Homo sapiens: one gene and its partners. The protein of the gene in region 5 purifies or fractionates together with the protein of the main gene of each other region. This does not show direct contact. Each region holds a gene or a part of one and is shown on either strand. Other genes may lie near its edges.

The links.
Region 1: the proteins of CLN6 (region 5) and GCN1 purify together in Homo sapiens (co-immunoprecipitation; one large-scale study listed by IntAct). This does not show direct contact.
Region 2: the proteins of CLN6 (region 5) and ATP2A2 purify together in Homo sapiens (co-immunoprecipitation; one large-scale study listed by IntAct). This does not show direct contact.
Region 3: the proteins of CLN6 (region 5) and SCAMP3 purify together in Homo sapiens (co-immunoprecipitation; one large-scale study listed by IntAct). This does not show direct contact.
Region 4: the proteins of CLN6 (region 5) and SMPD4 purify together in Homo sapiens (co-immunoprecipitation; one large-scale study listed by IntAct). This does not show direct contact.
Region 6: the proteins of CLN6 (region 5) and SLC7A5 purify together in Homo sapiens (co-immunoprecipitation; one large-scale study listed by IntAct). This does not show direct contact.
Region 7: the proteins of CLN6 (region 5) and CHP1 purify together in Homo sapiens (co-immunoprecipitation; one large-scale study listed by IntAct). This does not show direct contact.

The regions. Positions count from the first base shown.
Region 1 is NC_000012.12:120,128,716-120,132,215, reverse strand, and holds part of GCN1 (stalled ribosome sensor GCN1), read left to right. Parts: intron 1-193; coding exon 194-290; intron 291-882; coding exon 883-1,031; intron 1,032-1,462; coding exon 1,463-1,570; intron 1,571-2,721; coding exon 2,722-2,940; intron 2,941-3,500. UniProt on the Homo sapiens protein: Ribosome collision sensor that plays a key role in the RNF14-RNF25 translation quality control pathway, a pathway that takes place when a ribosome has stalled during translation, and which promotes ubiquitination and degradation of translation factors on stalled ribosomes.
Region 2 is NC_000012.12:110,329,747-110,333,246, forward strand, and holds part of ATP2A2 (sarcoplasmic/endoplasmic reticulum calcium ATPase 2), read left to right. Parts: intron 1-2,850; coding exon 2,851-2,939; intron 2,940-3,434; coding exon 3,435-3,500.
Region 3 is NC_000001.11:155,259,561-155,263,650, reverse strand, and holds the start of SCAMP3 (secretory carrier-associated membrane protein 3), read left to right. Parts: upstream 1-1,290; 5' UTR 1,291-1,499; coding exon 1,500-1,565; intron 1,566-1,916; coding exon 1,917-1,994; intron 1,995-2,991; coding exon 2,992-3,114; intron 3,115-3,200; coding exon 3,201-3,321; intron 3,322-4,090. Other genes in the region: dual specificity protein kinase CLK2, read left to right, coding at 251-433. UniProt on the Homo sapiens protein: Functions in post-Golgi recycling pathways. Acts as a recycling carrier to the cell surface.
Region 4 is NC_000002.12:130,168,103-130,171,602, reverse strand, and holds part of SMPD4 (sphingomyelin phosphodiesterase 4), read left to right. Parts: intron 1-3,500. UniProt on the Homo sapiens protein: Catalyzes the hydrolysis of membrane sphingomyelin to form phosphorylcholine and ceramide. It has a relevant role in the homeostasis of membrane sphingolipids, thereby influencing membrane integrity, and endoplasmic reticulum organization and function.
Region 5 is NC_000015.10:68,212,729-68,216,228, reverse strand, and holds part of CLN6 (ceroid-lipofuscinosis neuronal protein 6), read left to right. Parts: intron 1-1,840; coding exon 1,841-1,939; intron 1,940-3,500.
Region 6 is NC_000016.10:87,863,008-87,866,507, forward strand, and holds part of SLC7A5 (large neutral amino acids transporter small subunit 1), read right to left. Parts: intron 1-3,500. UniProt on the Homo sapiens protein: The heterodimer with SLC3A2 functions as a sodium-independent, high-affinity transporter that mediates uptake of large neutral amino acids such as phenylalanine, tyrosine, leucine, histidine, methionine, tryptophan, valine, isoleucine and alanine.
Region 7 is NC_000015.10:41,276,268-41,279,327, reverse strand, and holds part of CHP1 (calcineurin B homologous protein 1), read right to left. Parts: intron 562-3,060; coding exon 439-561; intron 1-438. UniProt on the Homo sapiens protein: Calcium-binding protein involved in different processes such as regulation of vesicular trafficking, plasma membrane Na(+)/H(+) exchanger and gene transcription. Involved in the constitutive exocytic membrane traffic.

The DNA of each region.
Region 1 (3,500 bases), on a different chromosome or scaffold from region 5:
CTCCATACCAGTGGCAGCCCAATCTGGCAGGGGAGCACGAGTGCCTACAGGAAGGACTGGATCTTGAGTCTCTGAGTTGGCTTTTCCACCTTCTTTGTTGCTGTCCATCCTGGGCTCTAGAGCTGCCTGCCTTGGTTCCCACACAGCTGGTGTTGTTCCCTGCACCCCCTCACTCCCTTCTCTTCCCTGTCAGGACAACACTCGCATCTCCTCAGCCGGGTGCCTAGGGGAACTGTGTGCCTTTTTGACTGAAGAGGAGCTTAGTGCCGTTCTACAGCAGTGCTTGCTGGGTAAGTACACTGGAGAGTTCCCCTTCAGGGACCTGGGCCTCTCAGCCCTAGCGAAGAGTCGACGGGCATCTCCCTCCCTCCCTCAGAGGATCTTTTAGCAACTGGACTGTCCTTTCCTTGGGAATCCAGCAGTTAAAGCAAAATCCAGGCCAGGGGTGGTGGCACTCACCTGTAGTCCCAGCTACTCAGGAGGCTGAGGTGGGAGGATCAGTTGAGCCCAAGAGTTGAAGGTTGCAGTGAGCCTTGATCACGCCCCTGCACTCTAGCCTGGGCGACAGAGCGAGGCCCTGTCTCTAAAACAAACAAACAATACTGAATTTGCAGTGGTCCCGTAGCCCTGAGTGTCTCTGCTCAAAGAACACAGCTGTAAGCCCGGAGTGGTTCATGAGCAGGCTTTCCTTACTTTCCTTAATGTGCCACTTTGGGGAGCTTCTGCCAAGATAGCAGGGAGGTCCATGTGAATGTGGCCTGGAGTTTTCCTTGTGCTCTGGGTCAGCACACTGGTCTCCAGCGGGGTGGGCCCATGGGCCTCATGGGTGCTGGGGACATGCTGTAAAATACCGGTTGATCCCAGTCGTGTCCTTCCACCCAGCGGACGTGTCCGGCATTGACTGGATGGTTCGGCACGGGCGGAGCCTGGCACTTTCCGTGGCTGTGAATGTGGCTCCTGGCAGACTTTGTGCCGGCAGATATAGCAGTGATGTTCAGGAAATGATCCTGAGCAGTGCCACGGCGGACAGGGTAAGGCATTCGGGCCATATCCCATAGGCATAGGCCACATCCCATAGGCAGCACCTTGTGGACACAGCGCGGGTGGACCCCAGACTGGGGCTTAAGAAGCTTGGGTCTAATTTTACCTTTGTCAGTAACTTGCTGTGCCCTTGGACCAGCACTTGATCCCTTTGGGCCCCAGTTTCATCATCTAAACAAGGAATTTGGGTTGAAGAATCTAGATGCCCCTTCTGGGTCAGGTCTTGGATCCCTGTTCCTGGGAACCAGTGACTGTACTCATCTGCCTCAGCCGGGGCAGCCTGCCTGAGAGCTGTCATGGTGTAAGGGGTGATGTGGTGGTGATGTAGTGGAGGGTCCTGGAGATTACTAGGAACTGGGGTTTTCCTGGCTCTGGGGAAGGGGTGGGGGGCCTCCCGTCTAGCGCTGTCTGTTCTCCACAGATCCCCATTGCGGTGAGCGGGGTCCGGGGCATGGGCTTTCTCATGAGACACCACATCGAGACAGGCGGAGGGCAGTTGCCGGCCAAACTTTCCAGCCTGTTCGTTAAGGTGAGTGGGGGCCAAGCATGTGTTTAAGCCCTAACACCTGGCTTGTGAGGAGGTCCTAGGATCAGAGACCACCAGCAGTGCGCCCTCAACTAGTTGTGTGCTAGTTCTCCGTGGACGGCCTCCAGGAGATCGCTGAACACTTAGGGATGGAATGTAGGGGGTTTCTGTGTGTGCTTTACACTGCAATAAAGCCTAACTTTTTGTCAGATTCTCAAATTGACCCGTGACTCTGAATCAAGTTAGGAATCGCTATTTTAGGCATTCTTTCTAGGCACCGTAGTTTTGTAAAATTAGATACAGACCTGGGTTCCCATCTTAATACCTCTCTTTTCCCTCCTTCCTCTTCTAGTTGGCCCAGCACTTCTTGGTGTGGTTACTGTGCTATGTGCCAGGCCCTAGTTAGGAAAGCCAAGGAATGTGCCAGCAGGGCTCCTGTGGCCCGTGTGATATGGCGTGCTTCTGAAGCATTACTGTGCACAGAAGTCAGAGCCAGGGTGTATTTTAGTGAGATGGGGCCATGCCTGGTACTCTAACCAGCTCTCAGCAACAGTGTCAGTGGTGCTGTGCATGGACCTTGCCTTGAGTAATGAGGTTCCCAAGAGTGACTGCCTCCCCCCGCAGCACCGGGAACCCACGGAGTTTCTGAGGGGCCTGATTCGATTGAGCCTCGTCTGTGATGACATCAGCCTGCACCCGCTTGTTCACTTGGCATTATCCTGAAGGTGTAGAGATGAACAAGGCAGACAGGATCCCTGGAGCCCATGGGGAGGACCCTGATATAGATAAGATTGGCAGGGGGCACCTCTAAAGGATGACATGGGAGCTGAGACCTGCAGGATGGGAAGGAACTAACCTAGAGAGGATCCGGGGCAAGCACGGCCCAAGCTGTGGGACCAGCCAGGGCAGAGGCCCGAGGCCCTGGGATGTTGGAGGAAGTAAAAACGCATGCGGGCTGAGAGTAGTGAGCAAGGGGAGAGTGGCATGAGATGAGGGTGCAGGAAACCAGGGTCGAGTCATGCTGGGACCCTCCCACAGGAGCAGGGGGGGTCAGTGTTCATGCTGTAGGGAGAGTGTCGAGGCTGGGCATTTGGGCTGCTTCAAGGAATAGATGACATGCCTATCCAAAAGCCTGTTTGTGGTTCTTTTTACAGTGTCTGCAGAACCCATCCAGCGACATCAGGCTGGTGGCTGAGAAGATGATCTGGTGGGCAAATAAGGACCCACTGCCTCCCCTGGACCCCCAGGCCATCAAGCCCATCCTGAAGGCTCTTCTTGACAACACCAAGGATAAGAACACCGTGGTCAGGGCCTACAGCGACCAGGCAATTGTCAACCTCCTCAAGATGCGGCAGGGTGAAGAGGTGTTTCAGGTGGGAGCCTGGGGGGCCTCACCAGGATGTGCTGTGAGCATTTGTCTTTCAGCTCTTCTTCAGCATGGAAATATTTAAACCACAGGCTCTTCTCTGCCACCACGGATGTGCTAGCTTTCAGGAGCAGATTAAGATTTGGGTGACTGGGGCCGGGCGCGGTGGCTCGCGCCTGTAATCCCAGCACTTTGGGAGGCTGAGGCGGGCAGATCACCAAGTCAGGAGATGAAGGCTAACACGGTGAAACCCCGTCTCTACTAAAAATACAAAAAAATTAGCCAGGCGTGGTGGGCGGCTTTGTCCCAGCTACTCAGGAGGCTGAGGCAGGAGAATGGCGTGAACCCAGGAGACGGAGGTTGCAGTGAGCTGAGATCATGCCACTGCACTCCAGCCTGGGCGACAGAGTGAGACTCCGTCTCAAAAAAAAAAAAAAAAAAAAAAGATTTGGGTGACTGGCCCAGTACCTGAAAACATACATTCCCATGGTTTTCAGACTTCTTTCCGAGCAGGGCCCTTTCTTCAAATAAAATCTCACATGACACCCAAACAGACATAGCAGATCC
Region 2 (3,500 bases), on a different chromosome or scaffold from region 5:
GATAAAATAAATAATTTAAACCTGCTGTTAGAAAAGTAACAACTGAATAAATAATGCAATAATTATACAGCTGGATTATTTTGTATAATTCACTTTCCTTAGGTTTTGCTTAAACAACTTGGTACAAGTCTATTCCAAAAGGTACACATGACTCATACAGAGTAGACATTTGTCACATATTTTATTCGGCTCATTAATTAGCAAGGGAATCTGTATTTGAGGAAGTGTTCAATATTAGAATATTAGAATAGGGATTGCTAGGTTAGATTACAAAACTAATGTCTTACAGGGAAACCTCATATAACATGAGCATTTATTTAGTAACACAGTGTTACATTTTCCTAGAATGGGCTTGTTAAATAATGCTTCTGTATGATATTGAAAGGGTGTAGTTATCTTGGCCTTTTTGTCAGGTTTTAGATAATTATTTTTAACATCGGAAATTGTTTTATAATCAGTTAAGCCCTGTGAATTTTTATCTTGCCAATTTTAAGCTCATGATGATTTTTTAGATACAGGTTCTCCCTCCCCCGCAAGCTCCTTGTGAAGTCCAAACCCACATTTAGAATTGACAGAACTGGGGTGTTCCAACTTTCAAAGTGGAAAGCTTCTAGGTTTGTCTTAGGTTTCTCCAGGATATTAAGGTGTTTGAGCTACTTAAGTTCTTATTTTTTGGAACCAAAAGGTTGGATGAATTGGCTAAAAGTCAGTTTTGTCATACTGGTTGTTTCAGGAAGAGAAAGGGAATTTTCTTATTTACGATTTTGTGTCTCACTTAGCCTGAAAGCTTTAATTCCTCAGAATAGTCTTTATGTCTGTGAAAGTAAGCCATGTGTAAAGCCATGTGTAAAATTGTAATTTTTAAAATTTCAGTTTCCCAGTTCACTATAATTTTTTTTTGTTCTTTTCTCCCTTGAATGGCTTGGCTTAAAATGTTTTCTTATAATAAAGAAAAAGCCTGCCTGTTCTGAGTGAAGCTCTACCTCACAACAGGAAGCTGGTGCTAATTGGTATTCTGCAGGAGGCTTCTTGCAGTGGTATTGCATAACTGCCCTTGACTTAGGAAGATTTTCATCCTGCATATCCTAAATGGTTGACTTGCTCACAGTCAAAAATGTCTAAGTACATTTAGATTTAGCTAATGTAGATTCAGATTCTGAATGTCTTTTAGAATATTTTGGGCTTTGGTATAGACTCAAAGAATTTCACATTTTTGGCTGGGCACAGTGGTTCACGCCTGTTATTTCAGCACTTTGGGAGGCCGAGGCGGGCGGATCACCTGAGGTCAGGAGTTCGAGACCAGCCTGACTAACATGGTGAAACCTCGTCTCTACTAATATTACAAAAATTAGCTGGGCATGTTGGCAGGCGCCTATAATTTCTTTGGGAGGCTGAGGCAGGAGAATCACTTGAACCCGGGAGGCGGAGGTTGCAGTGAGCCGAGTCGTGCCATTGCAGTCCACCCAGCCTAGGCGACAGAGTGAAACTCCACCTCAAAAAAAAAAAAAAGTTATTTTAAAATAAAGATTAACTAATTTCCTTATTGAATGTGAGATGAATTGCTCTGAAAAGATGTGTTTTTAAAACACAACATAGCTTTGTTGTTGCTGTTATTACGGAGTTTTGCTCTGTCGCCCAGGCTAGAGTGCAGTGGCGCAATCTCAGCCCACTGCAACCTCTGCCTCCCGGGTTCAAGCACTTCTCTCCCTCAACCTCCTGAGTAGCTGGGATTACAGGTGCCCACCACCACGCCCGGCTAATTTGTTATATTTTTAGTAGAGACGGGTTTCACCATCTTTGCCAGGCTGATCTTGAGCTCCTGTCCTCATGATCTACTCACCTTGGCCTCTCAGTGCTGGGATTATAGGCGTGAGCCACCGTGCCCAGCTCAACGTGGCCTGTTTAACTTGAGTTTTACATTTTTTAAATTCCCCTTAGAGAATGATTTGATCAGATTATTAATTGCTCATATTTCAGAGAAAGCACGAGAAAATATAGTTTTGACATCACTTTCTGTAATTTTTTCTTTTTAGAGGAGGTTTTACAAGTTTTCATTTGCAATGAAAACACAAGCCTAAATCTTACTTTTCCAAACTGGGCTTCTGAATTATAATTTGTGAATGCAAATCAAGCAGTGGAAAAATTATCTTTAAGAAAATAGCTTATGTCGCTTTAAAAAATAAAATTAATCCTTTCCTAAGCATGCTTCCATCTGTATTGTCTAGGGAACATCAATTCATTCAGCTCTGCGGGCTCCTTACTGTATACATATAGTTATGCAGCTTCATAGAACATGAGCTATTGCCACAATAAAAATAAGTGGGAAGGAGCAGAGAAGCAGTTTGTCTTATTTTACTCGGGAAATGTTTATGCAACTCTGAAATGTGAGTTTATTCTTCCCAAGCTTTTGTGCTTAGCTCTAAGGCAGGACTACCTAATACCACTCTCACAGCCAGCCATTTGAAATTTGGGATTCTGAGCAATCTAAAGAGTAACTTGTCTCTGGAACTGACCTTTTGCTGACCGGGAGTCCTCATAACTTGGATTTTGTGTGGGTTGTTGTGTCTTTGGTGCCACTGCTGCTCATTCATTCAGCACCTCAGTGATGCTGTTTTTCATACTGTTCGATTGGTCGGGGGTGTGATGGGCGAAGCAGTCTAATATAATTAAGCTAGTTAGGGTAAGGGACAGTACTGCTGATGCTGAGTGAGCCTCAGTGAGTTTTATTAAAGTTGTTTTCGTAAATGAAAGAGGTTGTTTGCCTTTGTCCTAAGCTAACAAAGGTAGTTTATTTGTGTAGCATTTTTTAAAAATCCCTTTTAAATACTCTGATGCGCTCTCCCCCTACAGATGTTCATTCTGGACAGAGTGGAAGGTGATACTTGTTCCCTTAATGAGTTTACCATAACTGGATCAACTTATGCACCTATTGGAGAAGTGTGAGTAACCCTCCTCCTCATTTAAAGGATCTGGTGTGGCAGTTTAGTATTTGTATTGATTTGCAGCATGTCTACAAAGTTAAGACAGCTTTCTGAATGTGGCTCAAGTCAACACTTATTACTAAAGTAGTAAATGTTTTTAAAACAAAAACTTTGAAAGATGAACCAAAGGTTATAATCCAGTCATCTTTTTGCATCTTCTGGGCTCCAAACTTTCAAGAGGGATTTGTGTTTGTTATTCACTGTAGCCAGTGGTGGAAGAATTGAATTAAGAATTTCTGGTCTTTTTACTGATTGATTTCTGATACCAGAGATGCATTCTCTCTTTTGTTTTTGTCTAATATTGGCTCTGGCATCAAATTGTTTGGAATTTTTTCCAGTATGTTGTCCCAGAAATTCTGTTTTCATTATTAAACAATTGCGGGGGGGCAGGGGGCGGGAGGAATCAATAGTGGCGACCATACCCTGCTCTAAGAGTGTTTTCTCTTTGGGCAGGCATAAAGATGATAAACCAGTGAATTGTCACCAGTATGATGGTCTGGTAGAATTAGCAACAATTTG
Region 3 (4,090 bases), on a different chromosome or scaffold from region 5:
GAAGATTCATGAAGTTGACAAGGATATACAAGTAGAAAGAACTTTCAAAGATTATGGAGTAATTGTGCTAGTGGGAAGGTAGGTTGAGCTATAATATCAGAAACGTTGGTCCTGGTGTGGTCGTGGTTAGGTAGCCTTCAAATTGGTTGCAAGCAGAGCCTTGGTTCTCCAAGAATGAAAGGTAGGGTCTTGAAGAAGGCAGGGTTTGTAAGGCATCCTGCCTCACCTTTTTCCTGCCCTCCTCCACCAGCGGTATCTGACCTCAGAGGCAGAGGAACACCACCAGCTCTTCGATCTGATTGAAAGCATGCTAGAGTATGAACCAGCTAAGCGGCTGACCTTGGGTGAAGCCCTTCAGCATCCTTTCTTCGCCCGCCTTCGGGCTGAGCCGCCCAACAAGTTGTGGGACTCCAGTCGGGATATCAGTCGGTGACGATCAGGCCCTGGGCCCCCCTGCATCTTTTATAGCAGTGGGTGTCCAGTCCAGGACACTGGTGCTTTTTTATACAAGAGAACGAGCCAGAGTTCACTCCTTCCTCCTGGCTCTCTATATACCTGTGAATATGTGAAATAGTGTAAATATGAAAGAACTTGTACCTATCACTTCAACCCCTGCCTTGTACATAATACTATTCCATCCACACAGTTTCCACCCTCACCTGCCCCCTCATACGGAGTTGGATGGGGGCCGAGTGAGGTAACCAGGTGGCATCTACCCCATGTTTTATAAGGAATTTTGTACAGTCTTTGTGAAATAAAATAACGTGCTTCATTTGACCCCCATCCCTGGAGTTGGAGGTTTGGGAATGCTGGGGTGGAGGGATGAAACTATTGGCAAACTTTCTGAGTTTGGGTATGAAGGGAGTCCTCCTTACCCTCCAAAATGAAGCACAGCCAGGCTACCAGTTTATTTCCCCTGTCCACCTTATCATATGGGAGGGTAGTGATGGGTGGGGCAGCATTTCTTTCAGATTAAAACAGAGAAGTGTTATGAGGTGGCACTTCTCGGATGTGGAATTATGAGAGTTGGGAAAGATCTGACTCCTAGAGTCATTAGGCCGCGGCCCAGTATAGAGCCAGAAACTCAGGTTGAAAACGTGCTCAACCTGGCTCCTAGGGGGGATTGCCACGACCGGTCAGAAGGCTCCCGTCGTCCATCTCGGGAGACTAGGAAGGCCGGATTCCTACGCGAGGCCTGCTGGGAAGTGTAGTTCGTTAGTGGAAGGAAGTCACATGGAAGAGGGGCGGTAGTTGGTTGTGGGCACTGGGTTAGAGGTATCACGTGGGGGCACTTTCGTCTTAGCTTTTGGACAAGACGCAGGCGCAACCCACGGCTGCTGCGGGGATCCTTGTGGCCCTTCCGGTCGGTGGAACCAATCCGTGCACAGAGAAGCGGGGCGAACTGAGGCGAGTGAAGTGGACTCTGAGGGCTACCGCTACCGCCACTGCTGCGGCAGGGGCGTGGAGGGCAGAGGGCCGCGGAGGCCGCAGTTGCAAACATGGCTCAGAGCAGAGACGGCGGAAACCCGTTCGCCGAGCCCAGCGAGCTTGACAACCCCTTTCAGGTGACTTGCGCCAGTCGGCCTCTTTTGGGCGGTCAGGTTGATTCTTCCCGGTTCTGTAGGGTCGGGCTAACTTGTATCCCCATTTGTGACATTTGATCCTGGGAAGAGCCGCCACGTGGGGTGACAGTGACTCCAGACCAGTGAGCACTCTGGGGGGCGGGCCCTGCCCCTTAATGGGCTGGTGCTGGCAGTGTTGGATGATGGATTTGAGGTAAATGTTGTCCCAGTCCTGGGACAACGGCGTGGCCCCGAAGGTGCAGTACTTGGAGCCACAGGCAGTTTGGGAATGGTCCCTGGGAATTCCCCTAGGTGGCACTGGGTGCCAGCTGAGACCCGGGTCTCTGCCCTCAGGACCCAGCTGTGATCCAGCACCGACCCAGCCGGCAGTATGCCACGCTTGACGTCTACAACCCTTTTGAGACCCGGGAGGTGAGCTACTGGAGAGCATAGGAGTTCAAGGAAGGGAAGGGTTTGCCAGTGAGACAAGTTAGCTTGGGTACAGGGGACTTTTCTGCATGCACAGGAAGGAAGAGGCACTGTGATCTTAGTTCCCTGAGAGAGGCTAGTCAGCCATGGGATGCCTCATCCTTCTAGGGCCACCAGGGCCACCAACCCAAATGGTTTGAGCTCTAAAAGTCAGTCCTGGGAAGATCTGGAGGCTGGCAAGGCCTTAACCAATGTTCTGTATGGGAAGGCTTTCTTGAAGAAAATAAAGGTTGGGGCTGGTTGGAGTTTAGGTTAGGTGTGCAGTTTGAAAGCAAGGAATGAGGAGGACTACACCTGTTTGTCCCACTGGATTAGAAGATGGTGAGTTGTAAGAATTTAAGGGGTTTTCATGGTACTTAAAACTTAAAAAAAAAAGCCAAGCATGGTGTGCATGCCTGTAATCCCACTTGGGAGGCTGAGGTGGGAGGATTGCTTGAGCCCAGGAATTTGATGGAGACCATCCTGGGCAACAGCGAGACCCCCATCTCTTGAAACGTTTTAAAAATTGGCTAGGTGTAGTGGCACATGCCTGTAGTCCTTGCTACTTGGGAGGCTGGGATGGAAAGACTGCTTGGGCCCAGGAGTTTGAGGCTTCGATGAGTGATGATTGCACCACTGCACTCCAGCCTGGGTGGCAGAGAGACAACCCCACACTCCATCCCCAGAAGAAAAGAAAAAAAAAAAACACAGTTAAGTGGGGAGATATGGTAAATGAGTGATTTGAGTCCTCACTAAGGAATTGGATATGAGGGATGATAAGGCTGCTACAGGTCATCATAGAGTTCTCTGACAGAAATTCAACAGAAGAACTAGCTTCCTAACAAATGGGGGAAAGGCTGCTTCCTTACATCATGAGTTCTGGGTCTAAAGGTATTCAAGCAGACTCTAGATTCCTGTGTTATGAGGGACTAGATGATCACTAAGGTCTTTTCCTCAACAGCCACCACCAGCCTATGAGCCTCCAGCCCCTGCCCCATTGCCTCCACCCTCAGCTCCCTCCTTGCAGCCCTCGAGAAAGCTCAGCCCCACAGAACCTAAGAACTATGGCTCATACAGCACTCAGGTACAGGAGGTGTGCAGGTGAGGGCTGGGGAGAAGGGCCAGTCCTGGGGCCCAGGGCTCACATCTCCGTCTGCTCACACTGGGCAGGCCTCAGCTGCAGCAGCCACAGCTGAGCTGCTGAAGAAACAGGAGGAGCTCAACCGGAAGGCAGAGGAGTTGGACCGAAGGGAGCGAGAGCTGCAGCATGCTGCCCTGGGGGGCACAGCTAGTAAGTAATAGAGTGGGGAAGAGCATCTGAGAGTTTGGGAGGAGCAAAAACAGGTCTTAAGGGCCTGGGCTCGGCTGGGTGCGGTGGCTCACACCTATAATCCCAGCACTTTGGGAGGCTGAGGTGGGCGGATCACGAGGTCAAGAGATCGAGACCATCCTAGCCAACATGGTGAAACCCTGTATCTACTAAAAATACACACACACAAAAATTAGCTGGGCATGGTGGCGCGCACCTGTAGTCCCAGCTACTCGGGAGGCTGAGGCAGGAGAATCGCTTGAACCCGGGAGGTGGAGGTTGCAGTGAGCCGAGATAGCGCCACTGCACTCCAGCCTGGTGACAGAGTGAGACTCCATCTCAAAAAAAAAAAAAAACACAAACCTGGGCTCTGGAGTCAGACTGCTGAGTTTGAATTTTAGAGATACTGCTTACTAACCATGAGCTTTTAGGGAAGTTACTTAATCTTGAATGCCTCAGTTTCCCTATTTATAAAATGAAAACCACGTTTGCATCCGTTTGACAGGGTTGTTGTGAAGGTTAAACAAAATATATGTGAAGTACTTGGTACAGTGCTTAGATGTTTTAAATAATAATAAACAGTATTAATTTTTCCACTCTCACTTGTCTCCTTGGACCCCAAATTGGAGATAAAAGAGAGGATCCAGGGCTGGGTATGGTGCCTCACGCCTGTAATTCCAACACTTTGGGAGGCCGAGGCAGGCAGGTTGCTTGAGCTCAGGAGTTAGAGACCAACCTGGACAACATAGTG
Region 4 (3,500 bases), on a different chromosome or scaffold from region 5:
GGAGGAGACGCTGCCCAGGTAGCGGCAGTGATCAGTGACCCTGAAATGTTGCTGATCCTGTGGAGGACTCGGAGGTGAGGCAGATTCACACCCTCTTAGATGCAGAATTCAGCTGCCAAGCAGTTTTTGATGCCTGGTTTTTTTGCTTGTTTTAACTTTTTGGGTTGTTTTAATTTTTTCTATTAGAAATTATATACGTAGGCTGGGAGTGGTGACTGATGCCTGTAATCCCAGCACTTTGGGAGGCCAAGGTGGAGGGATCGCCTGAGGTCAGGAATTCGAGACCAGCCTAGCCAACATGGTGAAACCTTGTCTACTAAAAATACAAAAATTAGCTGGGCATGGTGGTGCACACCTGTAATCCCAGCTACTCAGGAGGTTGAGGCGGGAGAATTGCTTGAACCCGGGAGGCGGAGGTTGTGGTGAGCTGAGATTGCACCACTGTACACACACACAAAAAAAAAAAAGAAAAGAAATTATATATATATGGTTTGGGTTTATTTATTTATTTTATTTTATTTTATTTTATTTTGTGTTTGGAGATGGAGTCTCACTCTGTCGCCCATGCTGGAGTGGTGCAGTGGCATGATCTTGGCTCACTGCAACCTCCATCTCCTGGGTTCAAGTGATTCTCCCACCTCAGCCTCGCAAGTAGCTGGGATTACAGGCACAGGTCAGCATGCCCGACTAATTTTTGTATTTTTAGTAGTAACGGGGTTTCACCATGTTGGCCAGGCTGGCCTCAAACTCCTGACCTCAGGCAATCCGTCCACCTTGGCCTCAGACAAAGTGCTGGGATTACAGGTGTGAGCTACTGCACCCAGCATTTTTTTTTTTTTGAGACAGGGCCTGGCTGGGTTGCTCAGCCTGGAGTGCAGTGTTGTGATCACAACTCACTGCAACATTGACCTCCTGAGCTCAAGTGATCCTCCCACTTCAACCTCCCAAGTAGCTAGTACTATAAGCATGCACCCCCACACCTAGCTTTTATTTTATTTTTTTGTAAGATGGGTCTTGCTATGTTGCCCAGGCTGCTCTAGAACTCCTGGGCTCGAGCGATCCTCCTGCCTTAGCCTCCCAAAGTTCAGAGATTACAGGCATGAACCACTACACTGGTCCATTGTGTGCTTTTTTTTTTTTTTTTGACAGGGTCTTACTCTGTTGCCCAGGCTGGAGTGCAGTGGCGCTGTCTCTGCTTCAAGTGATTCTCCTGGCTCAGTCCCAAGTAGCTGGGACTACAGGTGCCTGTCACCACACCCAGCTAATTTTTGTATCTTTAGTAGAGACAGGGTTTCACCATGTTGAGCAGACTGATCTTGAACTCCTTACCACAAGTGATCTGCCTGCCTCGACCCCCTAAAGTGCTGGGATTACAGGTGTGAGCCGCCGCTCCTGGCCTAGCCATTATGTATTTTTAAAGACGGTCTTACTCTGTCACACAGGCTGGAGTGCAGTGTCATAATCATCACTTGGTGGCACAATCATCACTCAAGCCAGCCTGTCACATCAGTGACTATAGGCATGCATCACTACAGCCAGCTAATTTAACTTTTTTTTTTTTTTTTGCGGAGATATGGGGATGCCTCGCTGTGTTGCCCAGGCTGGTCTTGAACTCCTGGCCTCAGCAATCTTCCCGCCTCAGCTTCCCAAGTAGCTGGAATTACAGTTGCAAGTCACCACACCTAACTTTTTATTTTGAAATAACTTCAGATTTACAGATAAGTTTCCACGCATAATAAAAATAACTTGCAGGCTGAGCACAGTGGCTCACGCCTGTAATCCCAACACTTTGGGAGGCCAAGGCGGGAGGATCACTTGAGGCCAGGAATTCGAGACCAGTGTGGGCAACGTCGGGAGACCTCATTTCTACAAAAAAAAAATTAGCCAAGTATGGTGATGTGCAACTATGGTCCCAGCTACTCAGGAGGCTGAGGTGGGAGGATCACTTGTGCCCAGGAGCAATGAGCTGTGAGCGTGCCACTGCACTTTAGCCTGGGGTAACAGAACAAGATCCTGTCTCAGGGAAAAAAAAAAAAAAGAAACTTTCATAGATCTTCACCCAGATTTCCAAACTGTTAATACTTTGCTGCATGTGTTGGTTTCCACCTCTATTGTATGTGTTTTTTTTTCTCTAAGCCAATATGAGTAAGCTACAGGATATGGCATCCCTTGACCTCTTAATATTTCAGTGTATTTCCTAGAAGCGAATGCATTATCCTATATAGTCACAGTGCCTGTAACCACACCAGGAAGTTAGTATTGCCACCAGGCCTCACACTGTGTGCAGTGATGTTTCACAGGCTCACCCACTGTATATAGTGATATTTCTAGTCCCCTTCAGTCAGGAATGGTCCCTTGCCTTTCTGTCTTTCCTGACCTTGACCCCTCCAGAGCATGCGGCCGCCCCTTAGGCTGTGTGGTATTTGCTGGTGACTAGGCCCAGCATGGGCTTTGTTGGGAGGAGCACCGTAGTGGGACACCTGGTCCTTGCCAGGTGCCCTTTTATCACTGGGTTAAAAAGGTGCCGGTCAGGTTTTTCCATTGTAAAATAATTACTTTGTGCCCAGGTTAAATAGTAATGAGGCTGGGCATGGTGGCTCATGCCTGTAATTCCAGGACTTTGAGAGGCTGAGGTGGGCGGATCACTGGAGCTCAGGAGTGTGAGACCAGCTCAGGCAACATAGCAAAATCCCATCTCTACCAAAAATTTAAAAATAACCAGGTGTGGTGGTGTGCGCCTGTAATCCCAGCTACTTGAGAGGCTGAGGTGGGAGGATTGCTTGCACCCAGGAGGCGGAGGTAGCAGTGAGCCAAGATCATGCCCCTGTACTCCAGCCTGGGCTACAGAGTGAGACCGTATCTCAACCAAAAAAAAAAAAAAAAAAATTAATAGTGCCTGGGCAACATAGCATGACCTTGTTTCTACTAAAAAGAAAAACATCAGCCAGGCGTGGTGGTGTTGGTCCCAGCTACTTGGGAGGCCTAAGTCTAGGAGGTTGAGGTTGCAGTGAGCTGTGATTGCATCATTGCACTCCAGCCTAGGCGATAGGGTACGATCCTGTCTCAAAAAAAAATTGATAACGAGAATTTACCGGGAAGATGTATGGAGACTATGTAATTATCAGTAGTATTAACATCCACTTTTGATTCTCCTATTTTTTCAAATTGATTTTATTTGCAGACAGGGTCTTGTTCTCTTACCCCAGGCTGGAGTGCAGTGGTACGATCTCTGCTCACAGCAACCTCAACCTCCTGGGCTCAAGTGATCCTCCTGTCTCAACCCCCCAAGTATCTGGGACTACAGGGAGGCATCACCACACCTGGCTAATTTTTGTATTTTTTTGTGGAGACAGGGTTTTGCCATGTTGCCCAGGCTGGGAATTTCTTAATTTTTTAGAAACAGGGTCTTGCTCTGTCACCCCAGGGTGGAGTGAAGTTGGTACGATCATTTGTCACTATAGCCTCAACTCGTGGGCCCAGGCCATTCTCCCTCCTCAGCC
Region 5 (3,500 bases):
CTAGAGAGAGAGATGAGGCCAGGAGTGGGCTCGTGGCTCCCTTCACTCACTAGGACCCAGCTTCTACTGGCATAACAGGGTCTCCTATTGGGCAAATCACTTCCCCCATCCTGCTTAGAGCTGCTGTGACCACTGTAACCCTAAGTAGGACTTGGTGGAACGTAGACATTTGAAAAGCTCTTGTATACGCTAGAGATTTTCAAATGTATGCATAATAGTTGCAAATTTGTTAAAAACAAAAACATTTACAAGTTATAAAAGTAACATGTCATAGATGTAACATAGTTGTAACATAAAGAAGTGTTAGACTCTCCCTACCCCTTTCCTGTCCCACTGCTGACAGTTTCGGGAACACCCCTTTCACTCTTCTCTGCTTGTACAAACACATATATACATCCTTTTCCCTTCTAACCATAATGGGATTTTGCTTTATACTTTATTTTGCAACCTGCTTGTTTTCCTTTAGAATATATCATATGGTGGGCATGGTGGCATGTAATTCCAGCACTTTGGGAGGCCAAGGCAGGAGGATTGCCTGAGGCCAGTCCTGGCAACATAGCAAGACCCTGTTTTTACAAATAATTTAAAAATTAATGGTGCTTGGTGCCTGGCACCTGTAATGCCAGCACTTTGGGAGGTCAAGGTGGGAGGATCGCTTGAGCCCAGGAGTTTGTGACCAGCCTGGTCAACATAAGGAGACCTCATCTCAATAAAAAAGAAAAAAGAAAAAAAAATATAGCTCTCTCTCCATGTCAGTACATATAAGGTGTCATTTCTGTTAATGGCTACTTAACCTTCCATGGTAAGAAGTACTATCAGGGATTCAACTGGTCCTGTTTGATTGAAGAGTCAGCCTATTTCTGATGTTTTGCTATCACAGAGTATTTTAGCAAGTATATATATGATGTAGGTAAAGAGGCAGATAAACACATGCACACTGAGTAAGAGAGAGAGAGAGAGACTGAGATTGCTGCATTCTGTGAGTTTTATTTCTGCGGGTTTAGTTTATCCAATATGGCATTTCTGTGTTAAAAGAGAGAACCATCTAAATCCTTCCTTGAAACTTGTGGGCCTTATGTGTGTTTTCAATCAACAGATACTAGAAGTACAGTTTGGGGGTTGTGAAATGCTTTAACCCCGCATAGGGGTTTTCACACTGGCCTGGACAAGGCCAGGGCTCAGAAGAGAGAGCATTGCAGAAGGAGGAACTGCCCCTGGCCTGCCTTCCTCTCTCTGGGAAGGAAGAGTTGCAGCTACTTTGTAGAGCATTCTTGTTTTCTCCTTTGTCTCCTAACGTGTACTTTGAACCTGGTTTGGAAGCAGTCCCTCCACATCAGGGCCTAGCACTCAGGAGACTGATCTGGCACTCAGGAGCGCCAGAACCCGAACGGTCCAAGTAGGCCCTCTGGGCCACCTCTCTTGTGTTATAGATGGGGAAACCAAGGCCCAGAGAAGGGAAGTATTAGCCCAGGGTCACCCAGCAAGTTGGTGCCACAACGGAGTCCCTGAGAAGCCTACCAACTCCCAAGCTGGCATCAGGGTCATTTATTTGGTATCTGCTGGGTGAGGGGCACAGGGTCAGGCCTTGACTGGAATTGCATCTGCTCTGTGTCTGGGGACAAGTCCGTTACCTCCTCTGGGACTCAGCTTTCCTGTCTGGATAAACCTTTGTCCCAAGGCTGCCGAGAAGGTCCAGCGATCACAGGAAGAATTAAGTGTACATGATGGGGTGGGGGGTGAAAGGAGTTGGGGTGGGCGGCATTAGGGGCAGACTCCCTTGAGGCCCGAGGGCCGCGTGGGGCTGTGCCCAGGTGAGCCCATTCTTCCATTTGCTCCGCAGCTGGTATTCCCTCTCGAGTGGTTTCCACTCAACAAGCCCAGTGTTGGGGACTACTTCCACATGGCCTACAACGTCATCACGCCCTTTCTCTTGCTCAAGGTACTGTCCCAGGGCCCCCACTCTCTCCTGTCATCCCCATTCTTTGCACACCTGGCAGGAAGGTGATGCTAAGCCCTGTGTCCTGACTCAAGCACGCTCCTGCCTGCTGCTGGGGGGTGAAGGCTGTGACAGAGCAGCATGTCCAGGGCCTGGGGCCCGGGGAAGGCGGAGCTGCCGGTGGCCTGGAGGGATGGAAAATATGCCCCAAGAAAGGGCTTTTGATTTGAGCCTCAGCCTGGCGTGCCAGTGGGGGAAGCAGAGAGGTGTTCAGGTAGAAGGACCTAAAGACAAGGCTGTGCTTGGGAAACCGTAAAACATTTGGGGAGGCTGAGGCAGAAGTGACTGGAGGTCCAGGGAGAGGTCAAGGACCCACTGGGAAGAGAGGAAGAAGCCAGGTGGCAGGAGAGGCAGCAGCAGCAGCTGAACTCCATCCTCTGCCCTGGAGAGCCCTGAGATGTCACTGGGAGCACTAGCAGGAACTGCTGGCTTTGCACTTTGCCAAGTAAGGCCTTTAAAACTACTATAGGTTGAGCATCCCTAATCCAAAAATCTGAAATCTGAAATGCTCCAAAGGAGTCTGAAATTTTTTAAGCACTGGCATGATACTATAAGTAGAAAACTCGGCCAGGCGCGGTGGCTGGAGCCTGTAATCCCAGCACTTTGGGAGGCTGAGGTGGGTGGATCACTTGAGGTCAGGAGCCTGGCCAACATGGTGAAACCCCCGTCTCCATTAAAAATAGAAAAAATTGGCCAGGCGCAGTGGCTCATGCGTGTAATCCCAGCACTTTGGGAGGCTGAGGCGGGCGGATCACCTGATGTCAGGAGTTCGAGACCAGCCTGGCCAACATGGTGAAACTCCATCTCTACTAAAAATACAAAAAAAAGTAGCCGGGCATGCTGGCAGGCACCTGTAGTCCCAGCTACTCGGGAGGCTGAGGCCAGAGAATCACTTGAACCCGGGAGGTAGAGGTTGCAGTGAGCCAAGATCACGCCATTGCACTCCGGCCCGGGCAAGACAGTGAGACTTCATCTCAAAAAAAAGAAAAAGAAAAAAATACAAAAAACTTAGGGCCGGCATGGTGGCTTACGCCTGTAAGCCCAGCACTCTGGGAGCCCAAGGCAGGCAGATCACTTGAGGTCAGGAGTTCGAGACCAGCCTGGCCAACATGGCAAAACCTCATCTCCATTAAAAATACAAAAAAGTTAGCCAGGTGCGGTGGTGTGCGCCTGCAGTCCCAGCTACTTGGGAGGCTGAGGCAGGAGAATCACTTGAATCCAGGAGGTAGAGGTTGCAGTGAGCCGAGATTCCACCACCGCACTCCAGCCTGGGCGATGGAGCAACACTCTGTCTCAAAAAAGAAAATTCTACACATATGTACTTAACACAAACTTTGTTTCATGTACAAAATTATTTAAAATGTTATATAAAATTAACTTCAGGCTGTGTATGTAAAGTATATAGGAAATATAAATGAATTTTTCCAGGCATGGTGGCTCACACCTGTAATCTCAATACTTTGGGAGGCTGATACAGGAGGATCACTTGAGGCCAGTAGTTTGA
Region 6 (3,500 bases), on a different chromosome or scaffold from region 5:
GCGTGACGGCACGCCTGGGACTGTCTCAGCAGCCCCCCATGCTTCACCCAACTGGGACAGGGAAACAGGAGGGGGCTACTTCTGCTTTCAAGGCATGGAGGAGCTGTCTGCAGGCCACTTCCCGAACACCTATGCGCTTGGAGAAGTGACTGAGACTGAGCCAGGGTATCTTCTCCACGATGCAGTGAGCCCATCGGGCCCTTCTTCTGAGAGCACCTCCCTGGAGGTGGAAGCCCCTGAGGCCCACAGCATCTTCTGAACCTGTGAGTTCCCACTTACTGAGAACTCGCCTGGATCAGTGCCGGGCCACAGTGGACCGGGACTTTGAGTGGATGCTACCCTACTCGCTATGCAGAGCCAGCTGGGGCCCAGGGAGGTCAGATAAACTGCCCAAACCAAATCCAGGCCCAGCCAGAATCTCAGCTCCAGCCTTTGCGCCTTCTGATAAAACCCAGCATCGCTTGAATTTCCAGTACACGCTGCCAAGTCTTCGTTAAGCAATAAATAACCACACAACCCTACTGTCATGCCAAGTTCCATATGGCCATCCAGAAAGAGACACATGGAGCTGGTTCCTCTCACCTTTATGACCAGTGAAAAGCGCACCAACACGAAGACACGCGTGAAAGGACCTCATCTCCTACCCAGACTGACAAGCAAGGGATTTTTTTCACTCACCGTCAGTGGGATGGTTCTAAGCACCGAGGCCAACCCATTTCACACGATTATTTCACAAAAAGAAACCTTCTGTGGGACGTGCCTGGGCGACTGAAAAGACAGCCAGCAAAACTGAGAACCTTGTTCTCAAATCTATACCCTCTCCCAAGGCAGCCTCAGAGGCCCGAGGGCTGAGGATCCAGACCCGAAAGCCACTGTACCTTCTGTAGGATCAGGCTCAAGGAATAAGGGGGTAAAAGGTGCCCTTTCCCTTCCTAAGCAGAAAATTCCAGAACCCAACCTTATGTGTGATCATTTAAAAATATATATATATATATATATATCAGCCGAGTAGGCTGACTCACGCCTGTAATCCCAGCACTTTGGGAGGCCGAGGTGGGCGGATCACCTGAGGTCAGGAGTTCGAGACCAGCCTGGCCAACGTGGAGAAACCCTGTCTCTACTAAAAAATACAAAATCAGCCAGGCATGGTGGTGCATGCCTGTAATCCCAGCTACTCGGGAGGCTGAGGCAGGACAGTCGCTTGAACCCAGGAGGCAGAGGTTGCAGTGAGCCGAGATCGTGCCATTGCACTCCAGCCTGGACAAAAAGAGCGAAACTCCACCTCAAAATAAATAAATAAATAAATAATAAATAAGTAAAATAAATCACTTTCTATGGCTTTTCACTGCTCCAGGAGCAATGTCCACAGATCAAACGCCCGGCCTCTCCTTCACACCCTGGAGCGCCCATCCTGCCCACTGGTCCGGGCTCCAGGCTGCCCCCTGCACCTGTCAGAAGCCCCCCTATAAGGGCAGGGTCTCCCTTCCCGGGACATCCACTGCCCTTCTCCGAGCTGAAGTCAGAATGACCTGAGAATCAGCTTGGAGTTCTACCAGCCTCAGCAAAGCCCACCTCTGCGACAGCACTCCTTGCAGACCCCTGACCCGGTGACAGATGAATAAAGTACAGACACACAGATATTCTGCTCTGCCAGTCCAGCTGAGGGTCCCAGCCGCTTATAGGCTCCCTGCTGAGTCCTGTAAACAGTTGCTACTTGGCCCTGATCAGCTAGTCAGACGTGCATTTATTCAGTATGATTAACTAACAAAAGCTTGAGTCAACACCATTAGAATGTAACAGACATTGTGGACTTCCCAAGTAAAAAGCACTTAAACACCCACGGTCTTAAGATTATGCGAGTAAACAAGCTAGCTAGGTAAACTACGCTGCCTTTCTTTTATCACTATTTTTATTTGTTTAATTAAAGGTAAAGGGATCAGGCCGCCTTCAGCCAGAGCTAATTACCGAAGTTATGCCAACTTCTCGGCCTTCCAAGATTTGTGTCTATTTCTATAACTATCTCTAATATCTTTCCCACCAGAATGATTGAACCCCAACACACCTCCCTCTCTCAGCAGGGTCTGCCTGTTCAGAGAACACAGCTTCTCTTTCTTGCCTTACACACAGGGGCAAGAATAGATTCACTCTTGCAGAGAGTACATCCCTTTCTGTTACTGAAAATCACTTTCCAAAAAAAAAAGCAACACATACACACATACTCACCACACACACAGGTGGGTCAGAGAAAAAAAACAAGTACAAATGGCTTAGGGACATGAGAAGTGTGGCCCTAACTTTCGCTGAAAGGGACCCTATTAACATTAACCCTCACCTCTGGGTCAGAGAGGGTTGGCACTCTAGGGCCTGCCTTGAAGCTTTACCTACTGGGACCAAAAGGACTGCTTGGAAAGCTATTTTAGGCCAGGTGTGGTGGCTCAAGCCTGTAATCCCAGCACTTTGGGAGGCAGAGGCGGGTGGATCACCTGAGGTCAGGAGTTCAAGACAAGCCTGGCCAACATGGTGAAGCCCCGTCTCTGCTAAAAATACAAAAAATTAGCTGGGCATGGTGGGCACCTGTAGTCCCAGCTACTCGGGAGGCTGAGGCAGGAGAGTCGCTTGAACCCGGGATGCGGAGGTTGTAGTGAGCCAAGATCGTGCCATTGTACTCCAGCCTGGGTAAGAGCAAAACTCCATCTCAAAGATAAAATAAAATAAAAATAAATTTAAAAAATACTTTTTAAAGCCCTATTACCACAAAATAAATCCAGGAACGCGTGACTTGGTACAGCCTCTTTGGAAGGCACATTAGCTATTACATTAGAATCCACACCCCGCCGGGTGCGATGGCTCATGCCTGTAATCCCAGCAAATTGGGAGGCTGAGGCACATGCCTGTAATCTAAGCTCCGGAGGTTGAGGCAGGAGAATCGTTTAAACCCAGGAAGCAGAGGTTGCAGTGAGCAACGAGCCTGGGCAACAGACACAGACTCTGTCTCAAAACAAAATCAAAAACAAAAAGCAAAAAACCACATACCCTTTTCCCATTTGCACAAAGCTGGGAAACCCCAAATGCCCTCCACAGGGTTCTATGGGGGGGCGGGGGTGCGGTGAGCACACTTGTTCCTGCCGACACAGGGAAGTCTTCTTAGCAGCTAAAGAGGGCAGCCTCTGCGTACTGCCTGGGAACATGGCAAAACCATTTTAGGCTTTAAAAAAAAGGTGGAGAACAAGTTGTACATTATGATCTTTTAAATAAATAGGCCAGCGATATATTTGTAACAGAAGCAGCTCCGGAAGCATACACTGTCAGCCGCAGAAACTCTGGGGGTCGGGGGTGGTAAAGGAGGAGAAATGTGTCACCCAGGCAGGAGCTCAGTGGCACCATGCTTGGTTCAAGCAGTTCTCCTGCCTCAGCCTCCGAGTAGCTGGGACTACAGGTGTGCGCCATGACGCCCAGCTGATTTTTGCTTTTTTTTTGAGATGGAGTTTCGCCTTGTTGCC
Region 7 (3,060 bases), about 27 Mb from region 5:
GAAAACCAGTAACAGTTACAAAGGTTATGAAGATTACAACACTCCCAAGCTCTTATCTGAGTAATGTTTTCCCCCCTTCCTCCTGTGCAGTAAAACGTAACTTTTTTTTTTTTTTTTGGAGGCAGAGTCTCACTCTGTTGCCAGGCTGGAGTGCAGTGGTGTGGTCTCGGCTCACTGCAACCTTGGCCTCCTGGGTTCAAGCGATTCTCCTGCCTCAGCCTCCCAAGTAGCTGGGATTACAGGCACGCGCCACCACGCCTGGCTAATTTTTGTATTTTTAGTACAGATGAGGTTTCACCATGTTAGCCAGGCTGGTCTTGAACTCCTGACCTCGTGATCCGCCCACCTTGGCCTCCTAAAGTGCTGGGATTACAGGCGTAAGCCACCGCGCCCAGCCACTAAAACGTAACTTTTTCAAACAAGAAGTAAGTGACCAACCTTAACAAATTCTGTGAAAGATATGGCACTGTCCCCATCCTGATCAGCCTCCTGAATGGTCCTGTCTGCGATGCTGCCCAGCTGCTCATCTGAGATATTTACTCCGACCATCATGCGTAGCACCTGGAAGACCAAGAGCCAGGAATTACAAGGGCCTTGGGAATCAGAGGGACTCTTTACTAAGATTAAAAATAAAGCTATCACCATCCTCCTTTTCCTTTGATGCCCTCAAATACAGTCATGCACTGCATAATAATGTTTTGGTTAATGACCGACTGCATATATAATGGTGGTGCTATAAGATTATAATACTGTATTTTGATGAGAACACATAGACACAAAAAGGGGAACCACAGACACTGGGGCCTACCAGAGGGTGGAGTAGGAGGTGAGAGAGAAACAGAAAAAATAACTACTGGGTACTAGGCTTAGTACATGGGTGGCGAAATAATCTGTACATCAAACCCCCATGACAAGAGTTTACCTACATAACTAACCTGCATATGTAGCCCTGAACCTAAAAGTTAAATTTTTTTTCCTTTTTTTTTTTTTTTTTTGAGACGGAGTCTCACTCTGTTGCCCAGGCTGGAGGGCAGTGGCACGATCTCAGCTCACTGCAAGCTCTGCCTCCCGGGTTCACGCCGTTCTCCTGCCTCAGCCTCCTGCGTAGCTAGGATTACAGGCGCCTGCCACCGTGCCCGGCTAGGCTAATTTTTTGTATTTTTAGTAGAGATGGGGTTTCAGCATGTTAGACAGGATGGTCTCGATCTCCTGACCTCGTGATCCGCTCACCTCGGCCTCCCAAAGTGCTGGGATTACAGGCATGAGCCACTGCGCCCGGCCAAAAAATTTGTTAAAAAAGATTACAATACCATATTTTTACTGTACCTTTTCCATGTTTAGATGTAAGTATTTGTTTTTGGGTTTTTTTTTTGAGACAGGGTCTCGCTCTGTTGCCCAAGCTGGAGTGCTGGGTTGCGAATGTGGCTCACTGCAGCCTCACCTCCGAAGCTCAAGTGATCCTCTCACCTCAGCCTCCCCCAAGGAACTGGTACTACACTACAGGTGTGTGCAACCATGCCTTTTTTTTTTTTTTTTCCTGAGGCGGAGTTTCACTCTTGTTGCCCAGGCTGGAGTGCAATGGCACGATCTCGGCTCACTGCAACCTCTGCCTCCCCAGTTCAAGCGATTCCCCTGCCTCGGCCTCCCGAGTAGCTGGGATTACAGGGATGTGACACCACACCCAGCTAATTTTTGTATTTTTAGTAGAGATGGGGTTTCGCCATGTTGGCCAGGCTGGTCTCGAACTCCTGACCTCATGATCTGCCCGCCTCCGCCTCCCAAAGTGCTGAGATTACAAGTGTGAGCCACTGCGCCCAGCCACTTGGCTAATTTTTCAAAATTTTTTTGTAGGAATGAGGTCTCACTGTGTTGCCCAGGCAGGCCTTCAACTCCTGGGCTCAAGCAATTCTCCCTCTGCCACCTCCCAAAGTGCCGAGATTATAGGCGTGAGCCACCATGCCCAGCCACAGATATGTTTAGATACACAAATACTTACCATTATGTTACAACTGCATATAGTAGTCAGAACAGTAACTTGCTGCACGGGTTTGTAGTCTAGGAACAATAGGCCACACCACATAGCCTAGGTGTGTAGTAGGCTATACCATCTAGGTTCATGTAGGTACATTCTATGATGTTCCTACAACTACAAAATTGCCTAACATTGCATATCTCAGAATGTATCCCCATCTTTACCATCATGTGACTAAGTAACAGCTAAAAGGCTGAAACCTTTATCTTCTCATCTAGGCAATGATGTAAGCAGAACTTATCTAGGTGACTGGATAAGAAGACAAAGACTAAGGGAGAGTCCTTTGCATTTTGCCCTTCCTCATTCTTCTTACCTCATTCTGTCTGGTGGCACTGCAGCCACCCTGGAGCCATGAGGTGAGTAATATGAGCTATGGATGCCAGGGCAGGAACACAGAATAAGCCTGGTTCCTGGACATCAGTTAGGTACTGTACCAGCCTGGACAATCTATGCCAAACATTCTTGTTGCGTGAGCCTAACTAGTTCCTTATTGATTTAAATCAGTTTGGTGGGGCTTTCTGAAATCCCACCCAAAATGTCGTCCTCTTCGAAGTGCTGCATTAAGCCAACTATTCCTAAAGTATGGCCCAAGAAAACATAAAAATCCTTGAAGAGTTAAATGCTAAATCCCCTTCTGAGAAAAATAACAAGCACAATTAAAAGGCTGCGAGAATTGAGTAAGAGAATTTAACACTGTTTCACCAAATCTGTCTTAAACTTAACCAATCCTTGGGCCCCTGGGAATTCTATTAACACCTTTAGGGTGTGAACATACTTTGAAAATTGCTTCCTTAAACAAAATAAGCAACTTTAACAATTTGACTGTCAGGCAATATGGAAAGGCTGGTTCTTAGGCAATATGAAATGGGAGACAGGGTACCTTTCTGACTCCTTATATTATTATTGCAGTCAGCCACCTCTGTCTTCAGATGGCAAGAACTGAGCTTTTCCACAGAAAGGAAAGGGCCTCTAGCCCAGTGGCTCATAGACTTCCTTTCCTCCACTCCTTTACTCCCTTCTACAATCTC